2 separate regions of the Homo sapiens genome follow, and region 1 is linked to region 2. Evidence: fine-mapped expression QTL. A gene starts in region 2. The other region holds a variant in brackets. All regions are shown on one strand. Distances are from middle to middle. Region 1 overlaps HIPK1 (homeodomain interacting protein kinase 1). Region 2 holds the start of HIPK1 (homeodomain interacting protein kinase 1).

The links.
Region 1: its variant is fine-mapped to the expression of HIPK1 in whole blood (TOPMed, PIP above 0.99).

Annotation. Positions count from the first base shown.
Region 1 is chr1:113,969,850-113,975,230 of GRCh38, reverse strand. It overlaps HIPK1 (homeodomain interacting protein kinase 1), which reads right to left. Exons shown (of 16, transcript NM_198268.3): 14 at 5,034-5,275; 15 at 3,277-3,407; 16 at 1-2,207. The coding sequence ends at 1,719. Among named protein-coding and RNA genes, the nearest start is that of OLFML3, 6.9 kb to the left of the region's middle. The variant C/T (reference allele first, on the strand shown) is at 2,136.
Region 2 is chr1:113,926,471-113,931,851 of GRCh38, reverse strand. It overlaps HIPK1 (homeodomain interacting protein kinase 1), which reads right to left and starts at 2,528. Exons shown (of 16, transcript NM_198268.3): 1 at 2,320-2,528. It overlaps HIPK1-AS1 (HIPK1 antisense RNA 1), which reads left to right and starts at 2,327. Exons shown (of 3, transcript NR_110726.1): 1 at 2,327-2,490; 2 at 3,464-3,608. RefSeq lists silencers at 1,798-2,107, 2,128-2,177 and an enhancer at 2,298-2,617.

The sequences.
Region 1 (5,381 bases), 43 kb before region 2:
GGTGAACAACTTAGGGTCCACGGGGGCTTGCTGGTCCATCCTAAGGCAAGCTCACTGTAAACTCTATTAACCACTACATTATCATATAAGGCACTACAATAAGGGAAGGAGGAAGAAAGGGAAGGAAGAGACACACACTGAAAAACTCCTCACCAGACACACCTGTGCAAAACAATTCCAAGGGTCTCCTCTCCTTGCAGGCAATGCCCCTGCTCATTCAGCACTACAGTAATATGCTCTAATATAATTGCAATTAGTTCACATACATTCCAACAAGTATCAGTTCATTTTGGTTTAAATACAATGGAGACATCAATCCATCTCCGGGATAACACTGGAGGATCACATACACACTAAGTACACAATTCAAGTGTAATCACTACACATTTGATTACAAATAACATTTTGGGTTAGCAGGAAAAATTGCTTGTTATATTTTTCTAATCAATATGTACATATTTAATTATGTAAAATATTAAAACACCACCATTACAAAACTTCTAAAATATTTTTAAATTCAGTAATAAATTTTTAAAATATTTTTTGCAATTCCTACATGCACTTATTATATAAGTCTTAATAAGAGAGCATTCAATTTGCTGCTGGCATACAAAGGAAGCTACTTTGAAGTATAAAAGCTATACACAAGAAATGTTCTTATCTGGTTTCAGGTTTTTTTAGCTTTCTCCCCAAACAAATCACATAAAACAGAAGGGAGAGATGAGCAAAACAGAGGTGTATTACTGAAAATTCATACTAATCTTTAGGCAAAGCTCATCAATGCCAGTATCTCATAATAGACAGAGATTTTGCATATAATAAAACCACCACCACCATGTAATAATAACCACCTTAATGGCTTTTTCGATAAAAAAATTTAAGCTGAATCAGAGAGAGAAAGACTTTTAAAAAATAATTTAAAAAAGAATTCATGGTGCTTCATTTAAAAAGAATACTTGGTGTTTTCACGCAGATATGGATTCTCTCACATTAAGTTACCAGCAAATGGTGAGCTGCCTTTTAAACACTACTTTATAACAAACACAGGAGCAATTGAGAGAATCTCAATAGTAACACAGAGTAATACGTAACCAGTTTTGCAAAAATAACAATTGCCCATTAAGTATAATATGACATTAAAACAAAACTGAAACTCTGTAAGTTTAAATGTCCAATAAACAAAAGGGAGATTGTGTAAGCCGCTTTTAAAATAAAATAGGCAAGTCTGAGTTTATAAACAAACAAAAAGTAATTTTTCTTTTTTTGTCATCAGATTTCAACTCCTTCTATCAGCATTTTTCCTGACCAGCAATCACAATAACACAAAATGAAATAAAGAGGGGCTTCACTTGTTTTTAAAAGCATTTATAGAAATCAAGTCAGAGAGACAAAATATTTTTCAGAGGGTAACTTCAGAACAATCTCTCTTCCTTGGTAACTGCAGAAGATGGGCATCTGAACTCTTCCAAGTACCAAAATTACTGTCACAAAAATAATGAATTTAAAAATAGGGCAAACTTTGGGAAGACTACAACAATGCAGTCAACACTGAGACAGGTTCCCCCAGAGAAAAACCTTCTGCTTCAGTGGGCCCCTGCAGAACAAGTTGCTGGCTAAGAAATTTCAAGAGGGTAAAGGAGGATCTCTCCATAGCCCAATATTAAGAACGCAGGGCCAGGAGAAGGTAGCCATGATTCCTCCTCCCTCATGCTCACCAACTATAAGTAGGAATACTGGCTGATCTTGGTAGGACTCAGCGGGTATCCAGTGTAAATTGTTGAGCCTCGGGAAGACCCAATGTAGGATTGGGTGGCAAACTGGTGTTGGTACTGAGCAGGGGCCACGCTGGCAGAAGTGAGGAGGCTGGGCCCAACACTGACAGGGACCTGGTGCACCAAAGTGCTAGGGTGAGTGGTATAGGCTGCAGCATGCCTTGAGGAACCCTGTGGGGAGAAAAGATGAGCAATGGAGCTGGTTGAGCCCAGTGCAGCAGCAGAAGTCGGGGCAGCATACGTATACAGATGAGCCTGGCTTGGCAGGTGAGCAGGGGCCGGGGCAAGGTGTGGGTGCCCTGTCGAGTGTAGCGGGCTGCCATGCTGGAAGGTGTAGGGGGCTTGGGAGAGAGGGGCCACAAA[C/T]GCCTGCTGCCTGCGGGGGGCTGGGTTGCTGCTTCTCTCCTGTGAGGTTGGAGCCGCCGATGACTGCTGGTTCTGGAAGAAAGAAGGAAGAAGTGAGGAATCCTGAGGTCACTCCAGCTCAGGGCACCAAAGGCCAAGTTAAGAGCTCAGGTTCTGACTTGTACTGTTTTCGAATGGGTATAGCACATAATCTCCCACACTGGCATTGAATGCTGTCAGAAATCAGCCACCCCTCCTTCTGCCTCTTAGCAAGATAGATCCTAATCTGGCTCAGGTAACAGCATTTTGCTTGTAAGTATGACAGGAAGAGGGAGAATCAAGAGATCATAGGGTTCCCCACTCCTGCAAGTTAATAACTGGTGACTCAACTCACCCTATTCTGGCGTCAGTAAATTTGAATTTTTCCTAGCCTTTATTTCTTACCATTGCTTTCTTTTGTTTTCGTCCTCTAAGTTCTTCATACCCCTCTTGAAATGTGGAAACTAAAATACATGCACTAACTCAAACTTACATTTTCACTTGCATGTGCTCTCTCTCACATACCCTCATACTGACACTTTCTCACTACTGGTGGACATCATACAAGCACTCGAATTTTAGCTTCTAAGAGTGAACACAAATAGAATAAAGTAATGAGAGAAGCAGAAGGGTAGGTTGGGGCTGGGGGTGTTCGGAGAGTGGGGAAGTCCCAAATCGCAGACTCCAGCAACAAGTAGGACCTAGAACCAGTTGAATTTGGTGGCCAATGAGCTTTTCACAATCTCTTGACTCAAGTAAACAATGTAAGGATCAGCTTACTTATGGCCTGGGGGATAAAGAGAATCTGGTCTCAAAGCATATGCCTATCACAGACATGGTTAAAGCACCCCAGGCTCTTTCTAAATCCCAGACGTTTCTCTAACCTTCCAGGGTAGACTTAGGGAGGTCTGATGGAAAACCTAGAATGTACATCCTGAACACACTTACAGAGTGAATGAAGAGACACAGCATATGCGGTACGACGTAAGCCATAGAACACAAAATTGTTTGACACAAAAGGGGCTTCATTTGGCTTTATTCAGCATCCAGCCAGAAGCAGGGTTCTCCAGAAAGTAACAACAGTGCAGGGCCCAAACAGAAGGCAGTAGCCCATAGCACTTACCTGGCTAAGATTGAGTGGTTGTGCTGCACTGGTCCCCCCGCGTTGAGCTCGATACCCTGTGGGGGTGATACAGCATCCAGATGACTGCCCACTCACTGAAGCGACTGGCTTAGTCTTATTGCTCAGGAGACCTAAAAAAGCACCAGGCTTAATAGTTATGAGTAGACATCACTGAGCTAACCTCAGATGGCATCATATTAATTAGTCCACATCTGTATGTAGTTTGCAAGCATTAAGGTCTCAATTCTATTTACATCAGAAGAAAATAACCTGTTATCACCCATTTCTTTTCTGTCTTGGCACAAATCTCCACATAGGATCCTCAAAATGTTCACTTAAATAAATATTATAAATATTTTAACTATAATCTCTTGTTATATACAAGGAACGACTGGAAATACAAATATGCTAAGACACCATCCCTCTCTCCAAGAGTTTATAGTTTTATGTAGGAAGGGATTAAACAAGCACAGAAATGATAATGTGAAGCTGAGAAAGCTATTGGTAATTCTTAGGATATTAAAGTGGCAAGAGGGTTTAAAAGAAGGCAAAATTCTATCTTGTTGGACACTTACTGTCTTCAAATTCTTAGAAATTACAGGACAGCTGAATGTGAAATTTTGCTTGCTTCTGTGTTCCCATTAGGAAAACCAGAGCATTTATTCAGTGTCTCATGTGATAGCCTATATTCTCTGGACCCAAGAGCACACGGAGGTACTAATAATTCTATTCAGTAGCCTGGCATCAGGAAGCTCTCTCTCTTGTCTGCAATGGGACAACTGTCTACTTCTGAAAAGAATCACACAGAGGCATAACACAATACCCTCAAATTACAACCCTGTTTATGTCTATGGCAGTAAGATAATACATAATAAAACATAATTTATACAAGTATGGCCCAGGTTTATGTTGACACCTAAACTTCACCAACCCCTTCCTTGGTATGAAGTTGTCACTGAAAAGCAGCTGCCTTAACAAGACTACATTGCCTGGGCTCACTTGCATCTAGGTGGGGCCATGTGAGAAGCATTCACTATTTCCACTTATTTCCAGCCTAAAGAGGTTAAGACATGTGTGTGCCTCCTTCACACTTTCTTTCTCCTTCTGACTGGATGCTCAGGAATCAAACACTTGTACCAAGAAATTATATGAGAGAGAAGTAAAATTCTACTATGTTATGCTACAAAAATCTAGGATTTGTTACTGCAACTGCTATTACCCAACTAACACAATAACTAAACCAGGGAGCTTAAGTCCAGTATCTAACAGGGCAAAGATGATGGAAGTAATTGGGTTGGTAATAAAACCATCAAAAGCATCACTGCTATGACACTGGGTGAGAAAAAAATCTAAAGAATATAACTGTTTTCCAAAACACTTTTGCAGTCATTTTCAATATTATCAAGTCCTGTCTACATCTCAATTGCCAAATTCAAATCATCTGTGGCAAACCTAATTGCCTGCTAATTCTTCTTGCAATATCACACGTCTTGTCTGCTTTCTCCCATCAGCACTGAATGTGTTTCTGAGACTACAATCTCATTTGTATATTAATCCAAGCAAAATAAACACAGGAAGATAAAGTGATGGCCAAAAATAATTTCACATTGTGCAGGGAACTGATTTCTGAATTAAGGTCTCTTTAAGAATGTCTACACCACTGGTCTCTACCACTGATATAAGTGGATTATGGCAAAATATTTAAGCATTCACACATCAAAGGAGAATTCAACTCAAGCTGTGAAGATAACACTGACCTGAGGCCTGGGTTGCTACAGTGCAGTCACCAAGCTGAGTTTTCAGTGGAGGCACAATGATAGTGCGGGTGCCAGTGCCATCTGCCACAACTCTGCCAGGCCCCTCCAAAACGGATCCACTATTGCCTCGGAGAGCACTCAGGGTATCAGTGGAATAAGGGCTGCTCAAAGAAGAGTCAGAGTCTGGAGAATCATTGACAGTGACATAACTGATGACATTAGACCTTGGCTTCAGTCCAGAGCTGAGGAAAAGAAAAATACATGAAAATTGAATTGTTCTTTTTTGTGTGTGTGACAGCGTCTTGTTCTGTCACCCAGGCTGGAGTGCAGTGGAGTGATCACAGCTCG
Region 2 (5,381 bases):
CAAAATTACTTCAAATTACAAGACCAGTTACAATATATAACTAACAAGCTGCACAAGTTCCAAGTGTAAGAACTTTACAAGGCCGGTATGACTCACTGATTTGTACCAACAAATCATTGATGGAGCTGTGCTTATAAAAACAAAAGCACAGAATGAAAGAAGTTTATTTTCCAAAGAATTGTGAACTTTGAGATTATCTCTTCTTTTTTTTTCTTTTAGAAGGAAGTTCTGGTTTGGTTTGAAGTCTCAAGTTACCAACGAACTTGCTCAAAAAACCACAAAACTACAGTGTCGAGAGATAAACTATTCATGAAGGTATCACCAGCAAAAGTTCTACTTGCCAACCAGAGCCAGTATATTTATAAGATCTCATTCACCATTTTATTCTAAGATACTTTACTGGCTTGGCTGCCTCCAGTTCCAACCGCAAGTACTTTACTAAAATATCTTTCAAGCCAGGAACAGTATCTTAAAGTCAATGCCACCCTTCATCATAACAGTATTATAACACAGAACCCTGAGATAATTACATGTAAAGATCCAAAATCACCAGCTGAATAATGAAAATTAGGTCAAATGATTTGTTAGATTTTAAAATGTTTTATAGAAAGCTTTAGGCTTCCATATGAAAAAAGCTAGTAATAGTTTGCATTCTCTATAATCTTACAAAAAAAAAAAAAAAACCCACAGACCAGAGATCAAAAATAGCTTTACACAAACAAAAGGAAAATTGTAGGTTTGCTGAGGGCATCAGCCACTTAATTTAACCCTATTTCATCAAGAGCGGGAAGCCACACTGCTGTTTTCACCAGTTACTAAGAAACAAGATAAAGGACAGATTGGGACAGAGAGTCTATAGCTGAAAGTATTATGTTGATGCAATTACTGAGAATTCCCAAAGTGTCACTAATAGACAAGAAAGAGCATCTAGGACTGCCTCTAAATGAGTCTACCTACAACAGAATCAGTGATTAAGTAAAGAAAAGACTTACTGGAGCTTGGGGGTTTTCCCCCCCTCTTCCCTACCCGCATCCTCCCATCCTGAACCCCCCTCCCCAAGTAGGAAAGAAAGCTCGCCCAGCATAAACACAGGCCATTGCTCACAGCTCGTCACCACAACAAACTGGAGGTTAGACCAACGCTCCTGGAGACGGAACTCCACGTCTTGGTTGCTAAGCACAAAAAGGGGACTCTTCCCCACAGACCTGTGAACAGTGTGGGCCTTACCAGAATTTTGGTTGTTTCTCCACCTTCCCCCTCCCTTTTGTTTTTTTAACGAAAGCTTTGAAAGTGGTGGCAGCAAAAGTTTCCCTTTGGGCCAGACCTCTAGATCTCCCTTGTACAGATATACATTAGGTGGGCTGGTCTCACGTAGTCTCCACCGTCATTACGAATTACAAGCCTAACGACTACAGAACATCAGCGGAGACGACAGAAAAGCTTCCACACCCACCCCACTGTCGTCCTCTCCAGGCACGGCTTCCTGGTCCCAAACAGCACAAATAACCCAAAACCATGGTGATAAGCGGAGCTGTGAAGTACACACGCACAAGCCACACACTGGGAACCTGCCACGACAGCCGGGGAAAAAACCGGCCGAGTGAGGAGACGCAAGGCGGTCCCCTGTCACTTAAGGACAACACGCCCAGGCGAGAAGTGGCAGGAGGCAGGGGGAGTTGCCCCGAAAACCAGCCCGGAGCCTCCCCACCTTCCTGGGAAGGCAATCCCCTCAGCGGCAGTGAGCGGCCGGGCCGCAAGACGCGGCGCCCGGTCCCAGGCAGGGGCCCTTTGAGGAAGGCGCCCCCGGCAGGCTGGGCGCTCCAGGAGAGCCGGCGGCCGGCCCGGCCCCGCCTCAGGGAGCTGAGGGGAAGTCGCTCCCCGCCGAGGACCCCTCCTGCCCGTCCCCACTCACCGCCGGTGTGTCTGGTTCTCAGCCGCGAGCTGGGGCTGCCGTGAGGAGGCGGCGGAGGAGACGAGATCTGGGGCCCCGCAGCCGGGTCATCATACCCCCCGCGCGAGCCGGCCCGGGCCCCGGCCCCCGCCCCCCGGAGCCGTCCCCGCGCCCGTCCCGCAGGGGGAGCCTCCTCAGCCTCCCTCCCGCTCCACCACCCAGCCCCTTCCCGCCGCCGCCGCCGCCGCCTCAGCCCCGCGCGCTCCCGCCTCGGCCTCCTGCTGCCGTCCGGGGCTACCGCCGGGCCCCTTGCTCCGCAGCCGCCGTTGTCGCCAGACCCGACGAACGGAATGCCGAGCGGCCGTCCCTCAACCCGGCCGGCCCCGCCTCGCCGGAACTATTCACCCGCCCCGCGCCATGACACCTACTGAGGCGGAAGTGCAGCTGAATGGACTCTCTAGGACGATCGCATAGTACTGATTGCAGTAGGAGTCGGTGGGCCTCGAGTAGGTGGGCCTCCGTAGGGAGCCAGCGTGGATCGAGTGCGGGGCCTGGACTTCCCGCCCCCTCCGCACTGCAGACTCTGCGGTGATTTAAAGGTGCCTGGCGGTGGTACGGGATCCAACTGTAAAATGTCATCCCAGCTAGTGTGACATCACCACAGTTTAGTGTGACACCCCCAGAGCTTGGGCAGTGTACGGGACGACAGTGCCTAGCAGAGGAGCTTCACTGCCGGTGAGGGATTACCTCAGGTTAGGCTTTAATGTTTCGTTGCCGTCTAGAGACGTTCTAGCAATGTGACATCTGTGTACCATATCTGGAAGTCTCCCTGTACGTCAAGAGCCCCTTAGGGGAGTCTCCCATTGCCGCCGTGGGAACCTGTGTTTACATTACGAGGAGAGAGAATAGCTGTACTCTGAACTCAAACGCTCAAAACATGCAGTGAGCGAATGCTAGCATAATTTTCTTGCCTCTACCAGAAGGAAGGCTGGGTATTTAGGAAACAGAACGCGTTGGGCACAACATTCTGAGAAAATGGACACAGAAAATTAGGTTATCCTAATAGAAAAGCAGTTGCATCTCCCAAAGTCAAGAGATTCTGTAGGACTTCCGATGTATCTCCTGCTGTGTAAAATATTCAGGTTCCTGAAGTGGGGGACATTTTTAGGGCAACTGTAATTTCTTCATTTTTTCCATCCCACAAGTGCTGGAGGCAGCAGTGATCTGAGCTCTAGAAAGTGACTGTCCGTCACCATCGGTATTTGCATATACTCTGTGAGGAGAAGGGCAGTTGTGGCTAAGACAAAATTCTACTATCAAGTTTTGTTTCTCAAATCTCACTCATTAACATCTTTGATTTCCTTGGATCCCCATAACACACACAGAAAACTATGATTTGTGTAAAATGCGCTGAAGTACCTTTTAAGGGAAGTCATTTGGCTTTCTCTCTGGCTTAACAACACGGGGAGCAGTTCCATTTTATCTGGAACAGGGAAGTTTATTTCCCTAGAGAACTAGGGTTACCAAAAATGTTCGATCCCACAAGGCAGTTTTGTTTGCATATTTTCACAGAAACTTCCTTCTACTACTTAAAGTCCTCACATTGGGCTGACCTGGGAAACATGAAGATAAAAAGAGTGGGTAAACATGCCTGCTTGATGAGCCAGAAAAAAAGGCAGAAACCTGTGGTCTGGGTAGAACAGATCCTGCTCAGAATGTAAGCTTCAAACATGTTTATCATGCCTTGGTTCAACCTAACTCTCTGACATGTTCCTAAACTCCTGCTCTCTCAAGTTATGTCCCTTTCCTCTTTTCAAATATCTCTCAGAATTCACCCTTTCGGGAACCTTTGCTGATTGACTCCTATTTTATTTGAATTCTGCATCATCATCTGATTACTTAAATTAACCTGTACCTTCTTTATTTATACTTGTTAACTTCTATTTTCATTGCTCTTAGGTCCTCAGTCTTTCTCACTATACGGAGAGCTTCTTAAAGTCTGTATTTTCTCCTCTTTAGTATCATTCACTCATTCATCCAGCAAACTGCTTGTGTGCCTGCTCTGTGCTATACACTCTTCTAGACACTGGGTCAGGTATGAATGAGACAGGTGAATAAAGCATGGTCTTTTCCCTCAGGGACCTTACAGTCTAATGAGGAAAAAACGTGTGCAGACATATATAAGATAAGTGAGAGAGTCGGAGAAGAACATCAGAAGTGATATTTGAGCATAGTAAGGTCAAAGAAGTTTCAAAGTTTAGTCATTTGTCCATTCAGTAACTATTTATAGAGCATCTTCTGTGTGCTAGGCACTATATAAGAAATTAAGGGGCTGGGTGTGGTGGCTCATGCCTGTAATCCCAGCACTTCGGGAGGCTGAGGCAGGTGAATCACCTGAGGTCAGGAGTTCGAGACCAGCCTGGCCAACATGGTGAAACCCCGTCTCTACTAAAAATACAAACATTAGCCAAGTGTAGTGGCGCATGCCTGTAATCCCAGCTACCCTGGAGGCTTAAGCAGAAGAACCGCTGGAACCCAGGAGAAGAAGGCTACCATGAGCCGAGATTGCACCATTGCACTCCAGCCTGGGCGACAGTGAGACTCTGTCTCAAAAAAAAAAAAAAGAAAGAAAGAAAGAAATAAAAAAAAAAGAAATTAAGGATACACAGAAGAAAAGGCATGGTCTGTGCCCTGAAGGAGCTTACAGTTAAGCAGAGAAGTTGCACGATTTGGAAGTAGTAAGGTAAATTGAGTCAGATTTTGAAAGGCAATGTAGAGCTGTTAGAAGTTTATTCGCACAGGTAGCCAGGCACAGTGGCTCATGCCTGTAATCCCAGCACTTTGGGAAGCCAAGGTGGCAGATCACTGGAGGTCAGGAGTTCAAGACCAGCCTGGCCAACACAGTGAAACCCCATCTCTACTACAAATACAAAAATTAGCCAGATATGGTGGCATATGCTTGTAATCCCAGCTACTCGGGAGGCTGAGGCAGGAGAATCGCTTGAATCCGGGAGGCAGAGGTTGCAGTGAGCCGAGATCGTGCCACTGCAGTCTAGGCTGGGCAAACAGAGCCAGACTCTGTCTCAAAAAAGAAGTTTATTCAGACAGGTAATGTGAGAGAGAACTAGTGATGGTGAAGGAAGAGGGCTAGCTGGAGTGGGTAAAGACTGGAGAAAGGGATCCTAATCAGAAAACTATGATGAGGGTTTGATTACACAGGAAAGAAGGCGAGAAGGGGCAGATATGTGAAATACATCCTCCTAAACCAAGTCAGAGCAACTGGAGAGGGAGGTGGAGCAGTTAGCAATCGGAAGCATTCAAGTTTCATTCAGGGTATGACATCCTTCTAGGGCCTACAGCCTAGATTCAGTGTTGCAGGCAAGAAGTCATTTGCCCAAGAGCGGCAGTGCTTAAGGCCAAATAGGAGAAGCTGATGAGAAGGCTGTGTCTTGAGAGAAGCTGAACCAAAAAGCTAGGCAAACTATTCAAA